Linked DNA regions of Homo sapiens: all the other regions are linked to region 1. Evidence: fine-mapped expression QTL. A gene starts in region 1. Each other region holds a variant in brackets. All regions are shown on one strand. Distances are from middle to middle. Region 1 holds the start of PSMD4 (proteasome 26S subunit ubiquitin receptor, non-ATPase 4). Region 2 has its middle 6.1 kb from the start of ZNF687-AS1. Region 3 overlaps PIP5K1A (phosphatidylinositol-4-phosphate 5-kinase type 1 alpha). Region 4 overlaps TNFAIP8L2-SCNM1 (TNFAIP8L2-SCNM1 readthrough).

What was found. PIP is the estimated chance that this variant, and not a neighbour inherited with it, causes the effect.
Region 2: its variant is fine-mapped to the expression of PSMD4 in whole blood (TOPMed, PIP 0.97).
Region 3: its variant is fine-mapped to the expression of PSMD4 in whole blood (TOPMed, PIP above 0.99).
Region 4: its variant is fine-mapped to the expression of PSMD4 in whole blood (INTERVAL, PIP 0.96).

What each region holds. Positions count from the first base shown.
Region 1 is chr1:151,252,520-151,257,519 of GRCh38, reverse strand. It overlaps PSMD4 (proteasome 26S subunit ubiquitin receptor, non-ATPase 4), which reads right to left and starts at 2,786. Exons shown (of 10, transcript NM_002810.4): 1 at 2,712-2,786. The coding sequence starts at 2,737. RefSeq lists a silencer at 2,525-2,664 and an enhancer at 2,705-2,894.
Region 2 is chr1:151,272,685-151,278,889 of GRCh38, reverse strand. No RefSeq gene overlaps it. Among named protein-coding and RNA genes, the nearest start is that of ZNF687-AS1, 6.1 kb to the left of the region's middle. The variant A/G (reference allele first, on the strand shown) is at 3,313.
Region 3 is chr1:151,223,948-151,230,152 of GRCh38, reverse strand. PIP5K1A (phosphatidylinositol-4-phosphate 5-kinase type 1 alpha) reads right to left here. Exons shown (of 16, transcript NM_001135638.2): 2 at 5,874-5,908; 3 at 5,747-5,782; 4 at 2,753-2,833. Among named protein-coding and RNA genes, the nearest start is that of PSMD4, 28 kb to the left of the region's middle. The variant T/C (reference allele first, on the strand shown) is at 3,115.
Region 4 is chr1:151,168,061-151,173,060 of GRCh38, reverse strand. TNFAIP8L2-SCNM1 (TNFAIP8L2-SCNM1 readthrough) reads right to left here. Exons shown (of 7, transcript NR_144937.2): 6 at 4,723-4,912; 7 at 2,765-4,075. SCNM1 (sodium channel modifier 1) reads right to left here. Exons shown (of 7, transcript NM_024041.4): 6 at 4,723-4,917; 7 at 2,765-4,075. The coding sequence ends at 3,976. TMOD4 (tropomodulin 4) reads left to right here. Exons shown (of 10, transcript NM_013353.3): 5 at 704-793; 6 at 1,298-1,428; 7 at 1,521-1,628; 8 at 1,998-2,141; 9 at 2,398-2,542; 10 at 2,958-3,074. The coding sequence ends at 2,980. Among named protein-coding and RNA genes, the nearest start is that of SCNM1, 4.4 kb to the right of the region's middle. The variant T/C (reference allele first, on the strand shown) is at 2,314.

The DNA of each region.
Region 1 (5,000 bases):
CAATTTACAGATTCAATGCTACTCCTATCAAACTACCAAAAACATTCTTCAAAGAACTAGAAAAAACTATTTGAAAATTCATATGGAACCAACAAAGAGCCAGAAAAGCCAAGGCAATCCTAAGCTAAAAGAACAAAGCTGGAGGCAACTTTACCCAACTTCAAACTATTACTTAGGGCTACAATAACCAAAACCGCATGGCACTGGTACAAAAACAGGCACAGAGACCAATGGGACAGAATAGAGAGTCTAGAAATAAAGCCGCACACCTATGACCATCTATTCTTTGACAAAGCTGACAAAACAAGCAGTGAGGAAAAAGAGTCCCTATTCAATAACTGGGGATACTGGCTAGGCTAGCCATATGCAGAAGATTGAAGCTGGACTCCTTTCTTATACCATACACAAAAATTAACTGAAGATGGATTAAAGACAAGGTAAAACCCAAAACTATAAAAATCCTGGAAGACCGGCCGGGCACAGTGGCTCACGCCTATAATGCCAGCACTTTGGGAGGCTGAGGCGGGCGGATCACCTGAGGGTGGGAGTTCGAGACCAGCCTGACCAACATGGAGAAACCTGGTCTCTACTAAAAACACAAAATTAGCTGGGCGTGGTGGCGCATGCCTGTAATCCCAGCTACTAAGGAGGCTGAGGCAGGAGAATCGCTTGAACACGGGAGGCGGAGGTTGCGGTGAGCCGAAGGTTGCGGGGAGCTGAGATTGTGTCATTGCACTCCAGCCTGGGCAATAAGAGCGAAAAAAAAAAAAAGTGGGCAAAGGAGCCGGGCACAGTGGCTCAACGCCTGTAATCCCTGCACTTTGGGAGGCTGAGGCGGGTGGATCACCTGAGCTCAGCAGTTTGAGACTAGCCTGGCCAACATGATGAAACCCCGTCTCTACCAAAAATACAAAAAAGCTGGGCGTGGTGGCGGGCACCTGTAATCCCAGTTACTCAGGAGGCTGAGGCAGGAGAATCACTTGAACCAGGGAGGCGGAGGTTGCAGTGAGCTGAGATGGCGCCACTGTACTCCAACCTGGGCAACAAGAGCAAAACTCCTTCTCAAAGAGAAAAAAAAAAAAAAAAGTGGGCAAAGGACATGAACAGACATCAGACACTTTATTTTTATTTATTTATTTATTTATTTATTTATTTTATTATTATTTTTTTTTTTTTGAGAGGGAGTCTCACTCTGTCGCCCAGGCTAGAGTGCAGTGGCGCCATCTCGGCTCACTGCAACCTCCACCTCCGGGGTTCAAACGATTCTCCCACCTCAGCCTCTGGAGTAGCTGGGACTACAGGCGTCCACCACCACGCCTGGCTAATTTTTGTATTTTTAGTAGAGATGGGGTTTCACCATGTTGGCCAGGCTGGTCAGTAACTCCTGACCTCAGGTGATACACCCACTTCAGCCTTCCAAAGTGCTGGGATTACAGGCCTGAGCCACGCCCCAGCCAGACACTTTTCAAAAGACGATATACATACAGCCAACAAGCCTATTAAAAAAACCTCAATATCACTGATCATTAGAGAAATGCAAATAAATCAAAACCACAACGAGATACCACCTAACACCAGTCAGAATGGCTATTACTAAAAACTAAAAAAATAACAGATGCTGGCAAGGTTGCGAGAAAAGAGAACACTGTTCTATCGTTGGTGCAAGTGTAAATTAGTTCAATCACTGGGAATCACTTGAACCAGGGAGGCGGAGGCTGCAGTGAGCCAGACTGGGCCACTGCACTCCAGTCCGGGAGACAGAGCGAGACCGTCTCAAAAAAAAATTATTCATCGTTTATCTGAAACTCAAATTTCACTGGGCATCCTGTATGTTATCTGGCAATGCTATGCTCCCCCGAGAAAATAAAAAGAAGAAATCTCATAGGTGCCTGTTTCACCCAATCGGTGATTTGTGTTCGTCAACTATTCTGTATTACATTCAGTGATTACACTTAGAAGGAACTCTTGAAACCCTGCAAAAATTTATGTCCTCCTCTTCTAATGTGACTCGTAATAGGTACTCAGCCCAAGCCTGAAACTGACAAAGAGAGCTACCTCACCGGATAAAGCCTTTGTGTCAGACAGCCGTGGGTTTAAATCTTGACTCCACCACTTAACTAGCTGTATGATTTTGGACAAATCACTTAAAATCGCTGAGACTCGGTATCCTGAACCGTAAAATGGAGAGATAATTTACCTTAAGGTGTGGTTGTGAGGTATAAGTGAGATAAACAAAATGACTGATACATAAAAAGCAATCTGTAAATGGTACCTTTGAAGATGATACAGGGAAAGGTAATGAAGTTAGAGACGAGGGAATGGGGAGAGGAAGGGATTAATAATCTATTTTCCTAATAGACGTTATTTTGCAAAGAAAGGAGGGCAGAAAACTATTACGATGAGTCCGAAAAGCAGAACTGTAGCTAAAGACAGACCCGGGCTGCTCTAGAGAAGACGGCGCTAGAACAGAGAAAGGAAGCAGGAATGACCAGTCAATGACCGTCCCCCTGGGGGTAACAGTGGTAACCCGGGACTATCCGCCACTCCAGGGCCCCGGGATGACTCAGGGAGTCCAGCGGGCTCCTTACCTCCGGGGCCAGGGCCGCCTCTCGCCCATGAGCCCCTGGCCCCCACCCCAGGCCCTCCCTGCCTTGGCGCTACACGCGCCCGGAACCCAGCTCTGCCCCTCCTGCCCCGAAGTAGCTCCTCACCACACCATAGTGCTTTCCAACACCATCTTGCCACCTTCCTCCCTCCCGACCGGGTCTCCGGGACGGCCTAACAACAACTCCTCCAATTGGCCCGTCGCTCTTCACCAATCACAGACCTCGGCTTGGCCAGCTGCTTCCGCCTCCGTCCCCCACGTTGCGTTCTGGGAGTTGTAGGTGCCGCCAAACAAATTTGTAGGCGTCTTGAGGGTAGTTGAAGGGAATCGCGGTAACACAAAAAACAGGATCTAGCCTCCACTTTCCCTGCCATTGCAGTTCTCAGTTGGGGTTTCCCGCTGGCCGGATCTCAGGGGAGCTATGGAGGAACCTTTGAAAGTGCTGTGTCGATTCCGGCTTCGGCATTTTAAAAAAGTGTCGGGATCGGCCGAGCGCGGTGGCTCACGCCTGTTAGCCCAGCACTTTGGGAGGCCAAGGCGGGCGGATCACGAGGTCAGGAGTTCGAGACCAGCCTGGCCAGCATGGTGAAACCCTGTCTCTACTAAAAATACAAAAAATTAGCCGGGCATGGTGGCGCACGCCTGTAATCCCCGCTACTCGGGAGGCTGAGGCAGGAGAATTACTTGAACCCGGGAGGCAGAGATTGCAGTGAGCCGAGATCGCGCCACTGCACTCCAGCCTGGGGGACAGAGTGAGACTCCGTCTCAAAAAAAGAAAAAAAAAAGTGTCGGGATCGCTAATGACTTTCTACAGCCCTCAGTTCCCTGTAGAATTTTAATTCAACAAGCCCTTATACCCTTCAATTGAATTTATTTGTATATTTATCTCCTCCCTCGTTTAACTAAGGGTGGGCAACGTGCCTTTTTTTTTTTTTTTTTTTTTTTTTTTTTTTTTTTTTTTGAGACGGAGGAGTCTCGCTCTTTCACCCAGGCTAGAGTGCAGTGGCTCGATCTCGGCTCACTGCAACCTCCACCTCCTGGGTTCCAGGGATTCTCCTGCCTCAGCCTCCCAGGTAGCTGGGACTACAGGGGCATTCCACCATGCCCGGCTAATTTTGTATTTTTAGTAGAGACGAGGTTTCACCATGTTGGCCAGGCTGGTCTCGATTTCCTGACCTCAGATGATCCACCCACCTCAGCTTCCCAAAGTGCTGGGATTACAGGCGTGAGCCACCACACCTGGCCGGCAACGTGTCTTAATCTTTACAATTCCCTAAGCCCAGTACAGAGCCCGGAAAAGATTTGACAACTCAATTATATTAACTAATCTGCCAAAGAACAAACCACTAAACCGTTTTGGTTAATCAAAAATTACATTCAAGGCCTGATGCAATGGCTTAGGTTTTATAATCCCAGCGTTTTGGGAGGCCCAGGCAGGAGGATCAACTCAGGCTAGGAGTCTGAGACCAGCCTGGACAACACAGCCAGACTCCGTCTCTACAAAGTTTTATTGTTTGAGACAGGGTGTCGCTCTGTTGCCCAGATTGGAGTGCAGTGGCCTGATCTCGGCTCACTGCAATCTCCACCTCCCGGGTTCAAGCCATCCTCCTGCCTCAGCCTCCTGAGTAGCTGGGGCTATAGGTGCATGCCACCAAGCCCAGCTAATTTGTTTTTAATTTTTTGATGTGGGAGGATGGCTTGAGCGCATGAGTTCGAGACCAGCGTAGGCAACATAGCCAGACCCCATCTCTGAAAAAAAAAAAGTCTCAAAGTGTTGGGATTACAGGCGTGAGCCATCACATCAGCTGGATATTTGATATTAAGCAATTTTTTTAGGCATGATAATAGTGTTAAAGTTATCACCCTTATAAAAGTAGGCTTTATTAAGGGTTATATGTTGTATTCATAGATAAAAAAAGTATATGAAGTTTGGGATTTAACTTAATCCTCTGGAAGAAACAAATAGTTTTGTTTTTTGAGACAGGGTCTCAAAGTAAAACAAAAGAGACAAGGTCTCACTGGGCTGGAGTGCAGCAGTGGTGCAATCATACATAGCTCACTGCAACCTCTAACTCCTGGCCTCCCATCTCAGCCTCCGAAAACTGGGATTACAGGCTTGAGCCACTGCACCCGGCCACGCTGGTCTTATTTATGTTGATAATTATTGAGGCTGGGTTATGTGTACATAGTGGTTCACCATACTACTCTACTTTTGGTTTGGAAATTCCCATAATGAAAAAAAGAAGGCCAGCTGGGCACGGTGGCTCACGCCTGTAATCCCAGCACTGAGAGGCCGAGGTGGGCAGATCACTTGAGGTTGGGAGTCCGAGACCAGCCTGGATACCCCCGTCGCTACAAAAAAATACAAAAATTAGCTGATTGTGATGGTGCCAGC
Region 2 (6,205 bases), 21 kb before region 1:
CAACTACTCAAGTGGCTGAAGCAGGAGAGTCCCTTGAGCCCAGAAGTTTGAGGCTGCAGTGAGCTACGATCCTGCTGCCGCACTCCAGCCTGGGCAACAAAGTGAGACCCTGTCTCTTAATAATAATGTTTCCATATTGGTTCATCAATTGTAACAAATGTACCACACTAATGCGAGATATTAATAAATAATAGAGTAACCTGAGCAACATGGAGAGACCCCATCTCTACAAAAAAACTTTTTTTTAAGTAGCGTGGCATGGTGGTGCACACCTGTGGTCCCAGCTACTTGGGAGGCTGAGGAGGGAGAATCACCTGAGCCCTGGAGGTCAAGGTTGCAGTGAGCTGTAATCACACCACTACACCCCAGCCTGGGCAAAAGACCAAGACCTTGTCTCAAAATAATAATAATAATAGGGGAAACTGGAGAGAGAGGATGTGTGGGAACTCGCATTTTGTGCTCAATTTTTCTGTAAACCTAAAAATGCTGTAAAAAATAAAGTGTATTAATTTAAAAACAAAAACAATTTAAAAAAAAAAACAAAGCAGGCGGCTGGGCGCAGTGGCTCATGCCTGTAATCCCAGCACTTTGGGAGGCCGAGGCGGGTGGACCATGAGGTCAGGAGATCAAGACCATTCTGGCTAACATGGTGAAACCCTGTCTCTACTAAAAATACAAAAAATTAGCTGGTCATGGTGGCACACGCCTATAGTCCCAGCTACTTGGGAGGCTGAGGCAGGAGAATCGCTTGAACCCGGGAGGCAGAAGTTGCATTGAGCCGAGATCGCACCACCACACTCCAGCCTGGGTGACAGAGCAAGACTCTGTCTCAAAAAAACAAAAACAAAAGCAAGGAAAGATGACAGTAAGTGTGGGAGGGTTGCAATTTTAGGTAGGGTGGACAGTAAAGGCCTTTTCGAGAAGATGGTGGTTAAGTAAAGGTCTGAAAGAGATGAGGGAGTGAGCCATGCAGCTATCTGGGACAAGAACATTCCAGGAGGAAAGAACAAGTACAAGGTCCTCAGGAGGGGAGTGTGTTCCAGAGGGGGTGGGAGGAGTGAATTGGGTCATGGGATGCTTTGGAAGCTATGGGAAGGTCTTTGGCATTTTCTCACGGTGGGTTAGAAAGCCATCAAAAGGAGACAGATGACATGGTGGCCTGACTTAAACGTTTTAAAAGGGTTGAAAGTGGGGTGTGGAAGAAAGAAAAAGACTCCAAAGCATGGAGGCTGAGGAAGTAGAAGCATGATGTTGCCCCATTTCTTGAGCTGAGAAGACTACAGGAGATGCAGGTTTTAGGGGTTAGGTCGGTAGCTCAGTTTTAGTCATGTTGAGGTATTACACATCCAAGTGGAGATACAAATGTAGGTGTCATCAGCTTATAGATAGTATTTAAAACCCAGGTCAGAATGGATGAGATCACCAAGGGAGGATTGAGGCATGGGAAACTCCGAAGTTAAAAGGTCAAGGAGATGAGAAGAACAGCAAAGAGGAAGGAAGGAACCAGGAGAGTGTTGTAACCTTCAAGCTAAATTTAAAAAGTATCTCAAGAAAGAGGAAGAGAGAATGATAGTCAGATGCCACTAAAATATCAAATAGGATGAAACCTGAGAATTGACCAATGGATTAAGGCAAAATGGAGGTCACTGGTGATCATGATGAGGAGAGAGTTGATGGACTGGTGGGGACAAAAGCCTTCATGGAATGGGTTTACAAGAATGGAGGAGGAAAAAAGAAAAGTCACTATAAAACTCTTTCAAAGGAAGGAAGGAGAAAAAAGATGGTAACTAGAGGAAAAAGAGTGACCAAGAGGACTATTTCTTTTAATGGTTACATTTTTTTCTCATCAGGTTCTACTGACCCAAGGAAAGGACTGTTTGAAGATGAAGAAGTTGTATGTCAGTACACGGGTGGGGAGGATCCTGTAGACAGGAAAAACCGAAGTTGTAGCAGAGCGATAGGGAAAGTTTCTGGAGTCATGTTCTTCAGAAGGTGAGCGAGAGGGTCAAGTTCACAAACAGAGGAATTGCCTTACACAGGGGCAGGGACAGTTCCCGAATAATAATTGGGAGAGAAGGCAGAGTGAGCGGGCATGGGTCGAGGGAGCTGGGGAGCTGTGGGATATCTCTTTGTTGCTTCTGTTGTCCAGTGGTATAAGAAACAAGAACATGTGTTGTCAAACTCTTCGTGGGAATAAAAAATCAAGATCACTCTCTAAGAGTGAGGATGAAGAAGAAACTAGGAATTTGAGGAGCAAAAAGATAGGAAATAGGCATTCAGGAGAGAGGAATGGACTAGGAGGGGAGATCAAGAGACTGAGAGGCCAGTGGCCTGGAAGATTCATTTACCTGGATATTTAAATCAGCAGGAATGGGCCGGGTGCAGTGGCTCACTCCTGTAATCCCAGCATTTTGGGAGGCCAAGGCTGGTGGATCACCTGAGATCAGGAGTTCAAGACCAGCCTGACCAACATGGAGAAATTCTGTCTCTACTAAAAATACCAAAATTAGCCAGGCTTAGTGGTGCATGCCTGTAATCCCAGCTACTCGGGAGGCTGAGGTAGGAGAATCGCTTGAACCCGGGAGGCAGAGGTTGTGGTGAGCCAAGATTGTGCCATTGCACTGCAGCCTGGGCAACAAGAGTGACACTCCGATTCAAAAAAAAAAAAAAAAAAGAAAAAATTCTTGAACTTCACATAGAGAGTAGGATTCTATTTATGTATATATATACTATAAATATATAGTATGATTCCATTTATATAAAGTTCAAGCTGGGCGTGGTGGCTCACACCTGTAATCCCAGCACTTTGGGAGGCTGAGACAGGTGGATCACGAGGTCAGAAGTTCAAGACCAGCCTGGCCAAGATCCTGAAACAAAACAAAAATTAGCCAGGCGTGGTGGCACGCACCTGTAATCTCAGCTACTTGGGAGGCTGAGGCAGGAGAATCGCTTGAATCCAGGTGGCAGAAGTTGCAGTGAGCCGAGATCATGCCACTGCACTCCAGCCTGGGCGACAGAGCAAGACTCTGTCTCAAAAAAATAAAATAAAATAAAAATAAATAATAAATAAAGTTCAAGAGCAGGCAAAGTAAATCAATGGTGATAGTAGCAGAATTGTGGTAACCATTGCCTAGGAAAGAGTAAGAGGAATGTGTGTGTGTGCATATATATATATATATATATATATATATAGATAGATAGATAGATAGATATATGCACACACACTCACACACACTTTTTTTTTTTTTTTCTAAACAAGGTCTTGCTCTGTCACCCAGGCTGGAGTACAGTGGTGCAATCACGGCTCACTGC[A/G]GCCTCAACTTCCTGGGCTCAAGCGATCCACCCACCTCAGCCTCCCAAGTAGCTGGGGCTACAGATGTGAGCCACTGCGCCTGGCTAGTAGGAGGAATCTTTGGAGATGCACACACAGACACACATACCCCCAGATTAATGGCGCGGCACCTTCTGTTAATAGCACCCACCACCTCTCCTTGTTGCAGCCATCTTCTGCCTCACCCCACTCTGTCCTATACTACTCCTATCCTCATTCTTGATTATTATTATAATTTTTTTTTGAGACTGAGTCTCGCTCTGTCACCCAGGCTGGAGTGCAATGGCACAGTCTCAGCTCACTGCAACCTCCACCTCTCAGGTTCAAGCGATTCTCCTGCCTCAGCCTCCCGAGTAGCTGGGATTACAGGTGCCCACTACCACACCCGGCTAATTTTTTATGTGTGTTTTTAGTAGAGACGGAGTTTACCATACTGGCCAGGCTGGTCTCGAACTCCTGACCTCGTGATCTGCCTACCTCGGCCACCCAAAGTGCCGGGATTACAGGCGTGAGCCACCATGCCTGGCTTTTTTTTTTTGAGAGAGGGTCTCACTCTGCTACCCAGGCTGGAGCGCAGTGGTACAATCTCGGCTTACTGCAGCCTTGAGCTCCTGGGCTCATGTGATCCTCCCACTTCAGCCTCCCGAATAGCTGGGACTACAGGCATGCACCACCACGCCCAGCTAATTTTTTTATTATTGGTAGAGATGAGCCACCACATCTACCCTATTTTTATATTTATTTATTTATTTATTTATTTAGCGATGGAGTTTCACTCTTGTTGCCCACGTTGGAGTGCAATGGTGTGATCTCAGCTCAGTGCAACCTCCGCTTCCCAGGTTCAAGCAATTCTCCTGCCTCAGCCTCCCCAGTAGCTGGGATTACAGGCGCCCGCCACCACGCCTGGCTAATTTTTATATGTTTAGTAGAGACAGTTTCACCATGTTGGCCAGGCTGGTCTCAAACTCCTGACCTCAGATGATCTGCCCGCCTCGGCCTCCCAAAGTGTTGGGATTACAGGCATGAGCCACCGCACGCGGCCTGTTGCTCTTCTTTCACCCTCCCTTCCCTTCCTGCCTCTGGCTTCTCCAGAGTTGGGATGGTGCGAGGAAGGAAAGGAGTCAAGTTTTACATGACAGGGGCTGTCAGAGCCCTCTGTGTGACAGGTTCCTAAATGCTCGCTTTCTCTTGGGTGGAGCATATTTGAAGGTCCCTGGGAGACTTACAGGACCTCTCCACTGCCCTTTTCTCTGGCATCTGCAGTGCACTCTCCAGGTGACCTCTTGCACAGTGCCCTGCACTTTTGCCCCATGGCATCTTACCATTGGGCTCTTCTTGCCCTTCAGGAACTCCTTTTGGGCAGGCTCTATCTGGATGGCTCAAGCTTGGGTACTTTCCATGCTTTCCTCTTGGTCCGTGGGAAACTCCCACATTCTTAGCATGCCAGGTGCTGAAATAAAGTCTACCCACTAGTGCCACCATTCCAGGTCTGGGCTCCAGCCAACCTCCCACATGTCCCATTCAGCAGACATTGGTCTCTATGTTCATTTATATCTCCCAAATACCAGTAAATTCATGTCAGGCTCTTCCAGAACTCTCTCTCAGTGACTTGCTTGTGGTCTTTGACAACACTGGGTCAGGAGTTCTGCCACCCAGGAAACATCCAGCCAAGGACTCAGATGCCCATCTGTTTCTTACAGGCACTCCCAGTCTCTTGGTACTGTCCTACCTTGGTCTGCGTCCTCCCCTCGCCCCTAAAGAACAAGAAACAGGGAATACCAAAGGACTCCAGAGAGATCAGCAATCAACAACAGATCTATCTCCATGAGCGTGCTCTCTTTCCTGTGTCAAATGTGTCATCTCATAGAGGCTGCAGGTGGCAGTGGGGGCCATGGGAGCTGGAGGAATTGTGCTGTCTTTTGCGTGGCTGGAAAAGTATTTTTCTACAATGTGGGGGTACCTGTGTACACTTCTGTCCTTAAGACTCAGCTCAAACTCCAACACAACCAGGAAAACCTTTCAACATCTTGTTACACACAGCCACCTTTAATTTTTTTCTTTTTTTTTTTTAAACTTTTATTATCATTCAAATGATTTGGGCAATTTCATCATATACTACATCCTTTCCAAGGCATGTAACCTGATCATGAAATAGAAAATTAATGCTTCAATAACAATAATTTATACAGAAAATTTTCCTGAAAATAACATGTAGACTATTTTCCTTGGCCTTTGTATTCAAACAAAGATGAAAGAACTAAGCTGTTAAAAAGCTAAGCTGGGCTGGGCGCAGTGGCTCACGTCTGTAATCCTAGCACTTTGGGAGGCCAAGGCGGGCGGATCACGAGGTCAGGAGATGGAGATCATCCTGGCTAACACAGTGAAACCCTGTCTCTACTAAAAATACAAAAAATTAGCCAGGCGTGGTGGCGGCCACCTGTAGTCCCAGCTACTCGGGAGGCTGAGGCAGGAGAATGGCATTGTGTCCGGAATTGGTGGGTTCTTGGTCTCACTGACTTCAAGAATGAAGCCGCAGACCTTCGCGGTGAGTGTTACAGTTCTTAAAGTCAGCGTGTCCAGAGTTTGTTCCTTCTGATGTTCGGATGTGTTTGGAGTTTCTTCCTTCTGGTGGGTTCGTGGTCTTGGGGGCTCAGGAGTGAGGCCACGGACCTTCGCGGTGAGTGTTACAGCTCTTAAGGCGGCGCATCTGGAGTTGTTCGTTCCTCCCGGTGGGTTCGTGGTCTCGCTGGCTTCAGGAGTGAAGCTGCAGACCTTCGTGGTGAGTGTTACACCTCATAAAGGCAGTGTGGACCCAAAGAGTGAGCAGCAGCAAGATTTATTGCAAAGAGCGAAAGAACAAAGCTTCTACAGTAG
Region 3 (6,205 bases), 28 kb after region 1:
CTTATATTTCTACTTGGTCCTCAATGGGCAATAAATTACAACTAGTTTTTTGTTTTTTTTTTCTTGAGACGGAGTCTCGCTCTGTCGCCCAGGCTGGAGTGCAGTGGCGTGATCTTGGCTCACTGCAAGCTCCGCCTCCCTGGTTGACACCATTCTCCTGCCTCAGCCTCCTGAGTAGCTGGGACTACAGGCGCAAGCCACCACACCCGACTAATTTTTTGTATTTTTTTTTTAGTAGAGATGGGGTTTCACCGTGTTAGCCAGGATGATCTCGATCTCCTGACCTCGTTATCCACCTGCCTCGGCCTCCCAAAGTGCTGGGATTACAGGCATGAGCCACCATGCCCAGCCTACAACTAGTTTTTTTCATGTACAAATAGGTCAAAGGAAAATAAATTATTAGTTTCTTTTTTTTTTTAAGTACCTGCCTCCCCAGTTATAATAGAAACTCATCTTTTTATCTTAATGTTCAACATATAAAAAGAGCTAAATGGCCGGGTGCTGTGGCTCATGCCTGTAATCCCAGCACTTTGGGAGGCCGAGACAGGCAGATTACCTGAGGTCAGGAGTTCAAGACCAGCCTGACCAACATGGAGAAACCCTATCTCTACTAAAAATACAAAATTATCCAGGCATGGTGGTGCATGCCTGTAATCCCAGCTACTTGGGAGACTGAGGCAGGAGAATCGCTTGAACCCGCAAGGCAGAGGTTTTGGTGAGTGGAGATCACGCCATTGCACTCCAGCCTGGGCAACAAGAGTAAAACTCCCTCAGGAAAAAAAAAAAAAAAAAGCTAAATAAGCCAGGTGTGGTGGCTGAGGCCTGTAGTCCCAGTTACTTTGGAGGCTGAGGTAGGAGGATGGCTTGAGCCCAGGAGTTCAAGGCTGCAGTGTGCCATCAACGCACCCACTGCATTCCAGTCTGGGCAACAGAGCAAGATCCTATTTCTTTCTTTCCTGTTTTTTTTTTTTTTTTTTTTTTTTTTGAGACGGGGTCTCGCTCTGTTGCCCAGGCTGGAGTGCAATGGCGCGACCTCGGCTCACTGCAACCTTCGCCTCCCAGGTTCAAGCTATTCTCATGTCTCAGCCTCCTGAGTAGCTGGGATTACAGATGCCCACCACCGCGCCCAGCTAATTTTTGTATTTTTAGTAGAGATGGGGCTTTGCCATGTTGGTCAGGTTGGTCTCCGACTCCTGACCTCAGGTGATCCACCCGCCTCAGCTTCCCAAATGCAAGATCCCATTTCTTAAAAAAAAAAAATTTAAAAATGAAGAGCTCAGTAAAAGTAATTGACATGAGCCACAGAGTCCATTCTGGGGACTGTCAGGTCCTTGACTGAGAATGAGTCAGTCCACCTCTGCTACTTGGGACAATGAAATAGAGAATGAACACAAAATTTACATAGGCCAGAAACCTAGAACTCCAAGAAATCTTCACATCCCATATTAGACAAACCACAGATGCTAAATGGGAGACTGAACACTGTCCCTCAGGAAGCCTAAACCATCTGAAAACCAGTCCAGAACTCAAGAATTTGGATCCCTCAAGGATCCAGGATGCTTCTGTTTTCCCTTCACCAGCCCAATTTCCACTTTTTCACTATTACTGCTCCTTTCCAGTCCATTTGATATTCAGAGCTCAAAAAAGCAGATGTCCTAGGTACTATTCGCCAGCTAAATGACTGTCTTTGTGGAGGAAAAGGGGGTGAGACACGGTCAATCACCCCTGTAACTCCAGCACTTTGGAAGGTTTAGGTAGGAGGAATGCTTGAGGGCAGGAGTTTGAGACCAGCCTGTGCGACACAGCGAGATCATGTCATAAAACTAATTTATTATTATCCATGTGTGGTGGTGTGCACCTGTAGTCCCAGCTACTCAGGAGGTTGAGGCAGGAAGATCACTTGAGCCCAGGAGTCGGAGGTTACAATAGCCTCCTGCTACCGGCCAATGATCATGCCACTGCAATCCAGCCTGGGTGACAGATTGACACCCTGGCTCTAAAAAAAAAATGGAAGAGAAAAAAAAGTCTGACCTATTGTGTATATTTGTATCAACAGGCTGGGCTGGGACCTGGCCCTCTATTGATATATACCCAGCAATGGACAAAAAGACAGAAAGACTGCGAGAGACATGGTTCCCTGTGGTAAGATAAGAATGGCTTTCATGGCCTTGTTACATATTTATACCTAACAGGGAAACCCAGTTTCTTCAGCTCAGTAAAATAGCAACCAATGCCAGATTTGTTCACTAATTTTTTTTTCTTTTGAGATGGAGTCTTGTTCTGTCACCAAGGCTAGTGCCACCAAGTGGCACAATTTGACCTCACTGCAACCTCCACCTCTCAGGTTCAAGCGATTCTCGTGCCTCAACATCCCGAGTAGCTGGGACCACAAGCGTGTGCCACCCAGCTAATTTTTGTATTTTTAGTAGAGACAGAGTTTCATCATGTTGGCCAGGTTGGTCTTGAACTCCTGGCCTAAAATGATCTGCCTGCCTCGGCTTCCCAAAGTGCTGGGATTACAGGCCTGGGGCACTGTGCCCAGCCAAAAAAAATCTCATTTAAACATTCATATACAAAAAGGAGACAATTTACCCTTTGAGAAATAAATCTAAAGTCTAAGCTGTATTATGTGCAAAAGCTTAGGAGATCAAGAAACAGGACAGTACATGGAGAGTAATTTCAAGGAGACTGAGTTCCCAGAGTAAGCTGCTGAGCTCCTGGAGTAAGATGAGACGGTTTCATCCAGACACACCTTTTTATATGTTGTCTCTCCTGAGGAATCAACACTTCTATGGCCTATTTTCTTGATGGGCATGCCAGAGGCATAAGGCACCTAGAAGAAGAGTCAAGATTATAATACAATTCCCATGTAAGACACCAAATAGCTACCACAATGGTACATCAAAACAAAATAAACTGAAACAACATATTCTTTCTAGATTAAAAACATTTTACAAAATCTTCAGATCTATCCCATGCAAATATACAGCTATAATGTTGGTTCCCAATGAATTAAGTGGCTAAAAGATCACAGAAGAAAACTCCAAGGGACACATATTTTCCCTTTGGTCCTCAGAAAGAAGACACAGAAAATAAAAGTGAGTATTTTTACTC[T/C]TTATTTTTTTGAAACAGAGTCTCGCTCTTGTTGCCCAGGCTGGAGTGCGGTGGCACAATCTCAGCTCACTGCAACCTCCACCTCCTCGGTTCAAGCAATTCTCTCGCCTCAGCCTCCCGAGCAGCTGGGATTATAGGTGCACACCACCACACCTGACTAATTTTTGTATTTTTAGTAGAGATGAGGTTTCACCATGTTGGCCAGGCTGATCTCAAATTGCTGACCTCAAGTGATCCACCTGCCTCAGCCTCCCAAAGTGCTGGGATTACAGGTGTGAGCCACCATGCCCGGCCAGAAAATAAGAGTACTTTTTTTTTTTTTTTTGAGACAGAGTTTCGCTTGTGTCGCCTGGGCTGGAGTGCAATGCCACGATCTCGGCTCACTGCAACCTCCACCTCCCGGGTTCAAGCGATTCTCCAGCCTCAGCCTCCCGAGTAGCTGAGATTACAGGAATGCACCACCACACCCAGCTAATTTTTTGTATTATTAGTAGAGATGGGGTTTCAACATGTTGACCAGGCTAGTCTCGAACTCCTGACCTCAGGTGATCCACTCGCCTTGGCCTCCCAAAGTGCTGGGATTATAGGTGTGAGGCACTGCACCCAACCAAAGGTGAGTATTTTTAAACAGTAGTAGAAACACAGCTCGGCGATGGCCGGGTGCGGTGGCTCACACCTGTAATACTAGCACTTTGGGAGGTGGAGGCAAGTGGATCACGAGGTCAGGAGTTCAAGACCAGCCTGGCCAAGATGTTGAAACCCTGTCTCTACTAAAAACACAAAAATTACCCAGGCGTGGTAGTAGGCACCTGTAATCCCAGCTACTCGGGAGGCTGAGGCAGAGAATTGCTTGAAACTGGGAGGTGGAGGTTGCAGTGAGCCGAGATCGCACCACTGCACTCCAGCCTGGGTGACAGAGCAAGACTCTGTCTCAAAAAAAAAAAAAAAGAAAAGAAACATAGCTGGGTGGTGTGGCATGCACCTGTAATCTCAGCTACTCAGAAGGCCAAGTGGGGAAGATCACTTGAGCCTAGGAGTTTGAGACCAGACTGGGCAACATGGCAAATCTCCATCTCCAACTAAAAATACAAAAAATTTGCCTGGCGTGGTGGCGTGCATCTCTAATCCCAGCTACTCAGGAGGCTGAGGCGGGAGAATCACTTGAATCCAGGAGGCAGAGGTTGCAGTGAGCCAAGATCATGCCACTGCACTCCAGCCTGGGCGACAGAGCGTGACTCTGTCTCAAAAAAAAAAAGAAAAAAGAAAAGAGGCCAGGCGCAGTGGCTCACACCTGTAATCCCAGCACATTGGGAGGCCAAGGCGGGTGGATCACCTGAGGTCAGGAGTTCAAAACCAGTCTGGTCAACAGGGTGAAACCCTGCCTCTACTAAAAATACAAAAATTAGGCGGGCATGGTGGCGTGCACCTGTAATCCCAGCTGCTTGGGAGGCTGAGGCAGGAGAACTGCCTGAACCTGGGAGGCAGAGGACATAGTGAGCCAAGATCGAGCCACTGTACTCCATACTGGGCAACAGAGCAAGACTTCATCTCAAAAAAAAAAAAGGCAAGAAGGGAGGAGTAAACCAGTATAGCAGTCTAGAAAGTTATCCCCAAGAGCCAAAATGCCAGAGCAACAGACATGAAGTTACTCTTCATAACATCAATACTCATTAAGTTTATAAGCCAGAAGGCTGAGAGACTAGTGGAAACAGGGTATCACAGTTTTTTTTTGAGACAGGGTGTCTCTGTCACCCAGGCTAGAGGGCAGTGGTGTGATAATGGCTCACTGCAGCCTCAACCTCCTGGGCTCAAGCAATCCCGAGTAGCTGGGACTATGGTGTGCACCTGGCTAATGTTTTATTTTTTTGTAGAACCAGGGTCTCACTATGTTGCACAGGCCTGTCTCGATCTCCTGGCCTCAAGCAATCCTCTCACCTTGGCCTCCCAAAGTGTTAGGATTACAAGCATGAGCAACCGTGACTGGCTGGATGTCCCAATCTTAAGACCTGATATTCAAGTTCTATTCTTTTAGCCAAGGCCCTTAGTACCAGAAAACTCTCAGTATATCACCTGACAGATGCTGGAAGATGTTCTGAGAGAAAGTTTGAAGTCCCAGGTCAAAAGGGCCTGCATTCTGAGGCCCCTTTCACAAAACCCAGGGGAGAGGCAAGAAGTGAGAAGAGGGTTAGGAAATACACCATGGGAAGAAAGTTGAGCAAAATGGCGATATTCTGGACAAAAAAGAGAAACTTGTGAAACTAACAGCTTCTGCATGGCTAAAAGTTCTTCATATTCATCGAAGGTATGCAATCAGGAGGCCATAACAGCAAAACAAAGAAAGTGAGCTTTAGTGTCAGACTGCCTGGGTTTGAATTTGAATCCCAGCTTTACTAATCCCACTTAGTAACTATGCAATCCTCACTTTCTTCATCTGTAAAACAGATAACAGTATTTGCCTCACTGTAGTTGTTTGAAGGATTAAATAAGAATATCTTAAAGGGCACTTAGGTACAGTATTTACTTTTTGGTATATATTGCATTTGGTACATTAAAAATGCTCAATAAATGTGAGATATTGTTAATATTTAAAATAAACTACAATAAAAGATGAGTTGCATAATTTCTAGCCTACCAATGAGATGTAAGAATCCTGTCTAGCTTCCAAGACCTAAGTAGAGAAAAAATAAAAATGTCATAAACAGGTTCCTTCTATCCCAGAATTAAGGTTTTAGTAACCATTGTATCAGTATGAAACTCACCTCAGATGCCATGGGTCTCTTGATTCCAGATGCTGCTAGGGGGGAAAAAAAAACAATCATAAGAGTGTATCACACACTCACATCTCTGTCAAGCATACTGAAACCATCAGAGTTTGAGTCAAACTAAACATAAGTATAAACTCCTGCCTCTTGCTCAGTAATACCAGATCCTTTTGGATAGCAACTGTGTATGTCCCTCTCTCCTTCTCCATACTCACATAGGCCTCGTGCATATTCCATTTTTATTCTAGACCCCTTTCTTATTCAAATATCCATATTTTCTCTGGGAAATATAACTTTTTCTTTTTTTTTGAGATGGAGTCTCACTCTAT
Region 4 (5,000 bases), 84 kb after region 1:
TCACGAGGTCAGGAGATCGAGAACATCCTGGCTAACACGGTGAAACCCCGTCACTACTAAAAATACAAAAAATTAGCTGGGTGTGGTGGTGGGCGCCTGTAGTCCCAGCTACTCGGGAGGCTGAGGCAGGAGAATGGTGTGAACCCAGGAGGCCGAGCTTGCAGTGAGCCAAGATAGTGCCACTGCACTCCAGCCTGGGCAACAGAGCGAGACTCCGTCTCAAAAAACAAAAAACAAAAACAAAAACAACAACAAAAAAAATTAGCCAGGCATGGCAGCATGCACCTGTAATCCCAGTTACTTGGGAGGCTGAGGCAGAAGAATTGCTTGAACCCGGGAGGTGGAGGTGGCAGTGAGCCAAGATCGCACCACTGCACTCCAGCCTGGGGGACAGAGTGAGACTCCGTCTCGGGGGGAAAAAAAGTGGAACCATTCTGGCTGAAAGAGGAGAGTCTCTACAGACTCCTTTATCCTCTAGTGGCTCATAAGGGACCTTCCCTTAGCCCTTTCTCAATGTTTTAGAAACTACTGCCTTAAGAAGTTTATGGAAAGGACCCCTGGGGCTGAAAGAGGGTGGGAAACTTCTTTGGCAAAGTGTAAGTGGTCAGGCTTTACAAATGCAACAGATTCAGAAATAGGTAGGAGGGAGGCTTGGAACAGGTTCCTTCTCATTCCCTGTGACTCCTCTTCTTACCCTCTCCAGCAATTCTGGACATGTACACACTGATGAGTAACAAGCAATACTATGATGCCCTCTGCAGTGGAGAAATCTGCAACACTGAAGGCATTAGCAGTGAGTGTGTTTGGGGAGCATGGTCCCCAGGGCTCTGGGCAGGCAGTCCTAGTGTCTGGGAGAAGGTAGAAAAGGGTGAAATTGATGATTCTGGGAGAGGACATGCTGCATGAGTGATAAGAAAACCTGTGGAGTGCCAGGTGAGGTGGCTCATGCCTGTAATCCCAGCATTTAGGGAGGCCGAGGCAGGTGGATCACCTGAGGTCAGGAGTTCAAGACCAGCCTGGCCAACATAGTGAAACCTTGTCTCTACTAAAACTACAAAAATTAGCTGGTTGCATGCCTGTAATCCCAGATATTATACTTGGGAAGCAGAGGCACAAGAATTTCTTGAACCCGGGAGGTCAAGGCTGCTGTGAGTTGAGATTGTGCCACTGCATTCCAGCCTAGGTGGATAGAGCGAGACTCCATCTCAAAAAAAAAAAAAAAGAAAAGAAAAGAAAACCAATGGGGAGGAGATTATGGGGAACATGTTGGGGTTCCCTTCCTGCCCTCATTCACCAGGTGTGGTACAGCCTGACAAGTATAAGCCAGTGCCGGATGAACCCCCAAATCCCACAAACATTGAGGAGATACTAAAGAGGGTCCGAAGCAATGACAAGGAGCTGGAGGAGGTGAACTTGAATAATATACAGGTATTTGACTTGCATCCTCCAAACCATAACACCGGATAACCACTGACATCCGAGAGTCCCTTAGCCCACCATCTCCTATTCCCCTCCGATAGGACATCCCAATACCCATGCTAAGTGAGCTGTGTGAGGCAATGAAGGCAAATACCTATGTGCGGAGCTTCAGTCTGGTAGCCACGAGGAGTGGTGACCCCATTGCCAATGTAAGGCTAGTTGACATCCCCAGCCCTCTCCCCACATCTTACATGCACCTGTTGCATGGCTGTCATAAAGGGTTTTGCTAGGGAGTGCTATTCTCATCATGCCTTCTTAGGGCAGCCCTCATGGAGACTCCTACCTTCAGTGCTATGGCTCATAACTCTCTACTCTCTCTAACACCCCTAGTCCCACTGCACATTCATCTCCCTGCTTTCCCCTGCTATCCGCCCTGCTTTCTGTATCCCTCTAGCTCCATTTACAGCACCTGAAAGACTCTTCTCAAAGAGCTGTGTTTCCCTCTTGCTCCTGTTCTTTCTTTCCTCAGTCATCTGTGAAACTGTTCCCTAATCCTAACCCAAGTCCCTACTACCCAGGCAGTGGCTGACATGTTGCGTGAGAATCGTAGCCTCCAGAGCCTAAACATCGAATCCAACTTCATTAGCAGCACAGGACTCATGGCTGTGCTGAAGGCAGTTCGGGAAAATGCCACACTCACTGAGCTCCGTGTAGACAATCAGGTCAGCATTCCCTTCCCCTGATGTTAGCATTCAGTCTCATTGAGTCTCCTCCCTGAGCCAGCCAGTGGGGCAGCTATCTTACTTAATCTTGCTTGAATTCTCCTCTTCATTGTCTCTGTGAGGGAAGCCAAGTCAGCATCTCTCTTCACCCACTGTGGAGAAACAAGCTTCT[T/C]TGACCTCCCAAAGGGGTCTGTGATGTGGGATGGTAAACAGCCCAGAGAGGGTGACTGTCAGCTTTTGCCTCTCCCTCCCCCAGCGCCAGTGGCCTGGTGATGCAGTGGAGATGGAGATGGCCACCGTGCTAGAGCAGTGTCCCTCTATTGTCCGCTTTGGCTACCACTTTACACAGCAGGGGCCACGAGCTCGGGCAGCCCAGGCCATGACCCGAAACAATGAACTACGTGAGTAACTGCAGACATGATGTGTGGAGTGGTCAGGGAAGTGCAGAAATTGGTGGATCCTCCTGAAAGCAGACCTAATGACTAACAGCCCAGGGTGCTACCAAAGAGCTATTCATATGAGAATTTCAAATCCCAAGAGTGATCAGAAAGTAAACAGAAAACTCCCCCTGCCCCAAATATGGACCAGTAGAGAGGTAGAAAGGATGCCAGAGATAATCATACTTGTTTAGAGGTATCGTAATTTTATTTGTGGTGTGGTTTCTTGTTTTGTTTTGTTAATGTGGGATGGGCCTGTAAGGTGGCCTAAGACACTACCAATTTATGAGTTTGGCTAAGGGACTGGAAAGGAGAAGAGTGCCTTTGCAGAAAGCAGGAGCTGGAACAAACACTTATGTTTAATATTGCTCCTTTACAGGTCGCCAGCAAAAGAAGAGATAACACTGCATTTCCCTTTACCAACTAGCGCTGGGAGCACTGGACACTTAAATCCTCATCTGTCCTCCTTTCCTGTAAATAAAAGCCCTTCTATCCATTTTGCCTGCCTCCTTCCTTGGGCTTTGGGGTGAGAATCTTGGCGCTAACCCCCAAGGGTTACTGCCAGTTCACCAGGGGATTATTTATACTCTGGGGATCAGCAGGCAGGGAGGTTCAGGTTACTAGGAGGAGGTGGGGGTGTTCCCTCCCTTGGTGTTCCCCATAACCCTGCCAATGCCTTTTGACTCTTCTACTTTCACAGGGAACTTAGCCACAGCCCTGTTTCCAGATGTGGCCAGGTCCCCCTAGTGCCTACCTGCAGTCCTTATGTGATTTGAAGGGGGAAAGGACTTTGAGTGGTAGTGGAGAAGCAGGCAGACAACATGAAGGGCAAAGACCTCTTTTTGACAGTCTTATTAATAGGGCACCAGGCTGATGCAGCTGACGCTTGGCATGGCTTTGGTAGGAGGTGGGGGAGGGGTTAGAAGTATGGATAGCCGTGGCTGGGTGCGGTGGCTCATGCCTGTAATCCCAGCACTTTGGGAGGCCGAGGTGGGCGGATCACGAGGTCAGGAGATCGAGACCATCCTGGCTAACACAGTGAAACCCCGTCTCTACTAAAAATACAAAAAATTAGCTGGGCATGGTGGCGGGCGCCTGTAGTCCCAGCTACTCAGGAGGCTGAGGCAGGAGAAAGGCGTGAACCTGGGAGGCAGAGCTTGCAGTGAGCCGAGATCGTGCCACTGCACTCCAGCCTGGGCGATAGAGCGAGACTCTGCCTCAAAAAAAAAAAAAAAAAAAAAAGGAGTGTGGAGAGCTGTGTACCTTGCAGGCAAGGAGTAGTTGGAATGAGAATGAACAGATCTGAAATCCTGAGATCCAACAAGGAACCAGACTTAAGGAAAGTTAAGTTCTCAGCACCCATTGTAATTTATTTGTGAATGAATGGGAAAAGGGTATCAGTCCAAGGGGAGATCAGGTGGTTCCTCCTCATCAGAGTCAAACTCAACATTTTCATCTTTTACCCATCGACCTCGTCCATCTGGGATCCATCCAGAGCTGGAAACATCAGAGAAAATAGCATCGATCAGGAAAGAGGCTTATTAAGAAGTTAGTGGTGAGCTCACACCAGTAATCCCAGCACTCTGGGAGGCCGAGGCAGGTGGATCACTTGAGGTCAGGAGTTCGAGACCAGCCTGACCAACATAGTGAAACCCTGTCTCTACCAAAAAAAAAAAAAAAAAAAAAAAAAAAGTTAGCAGTGAGAAAAAATTGAGAGCCATGTAAGTTGGGTGGCTAAAACAAAACGAAACCAAAGATGGAAAACAACAATGGGAGTCCGGGTGCGGTGGCTCACACCTGTAATCCCAACACTTTAGGAAACTGAGGCAGGTGGATCACCTGAGGTCAGGAGTTCGAGGCCAGCCTGACCAACATGGAGAAACCCCGTCTCTACTAAAAATACAAAATTAGCCGGGCGTGATGGCACATGCCTGTAATCCCAGCTACTCGGGAGCCTGAGGCAGGAGAATCGCTTGAACCCAGGAGGTGGAGGTTACAGTGAGCCGAGAGCGTGCCATTGCACTCCAGCTGGGGCAACAAGAGTGAAACTCCATCTCAAAAAAAAAAAAAGGAAAAACAATAGCTTTGAAACAAGGGTGTCAGAGAGAAAAGAAAATCTGAGGAAACTGATTAGGCATACTCACCTTCGAAGGGTGAGATAATGGTCCAGGGCTCGTCTTCTTGTGGGGCTCATGGGTGCAGGGGCTGAGACAGTTGCTGACTCCTCGGCCTGTGGGCCAGCCGCAGGTTCAGGTTCCCTACTGATCTTCCCACTTTGGAGTTTGACCTCTGAGGGTGGCATAGGGGAAAGGGAGACAGAGGGACCAGGGGCTTCTGGTCTAGGTAGAGAAGAATAGTCTGTAAAAGCAGTAAGGGAAAGGGCCAACTCTCCTATGACTCCCAACCTCTTAAAACAGTGCTT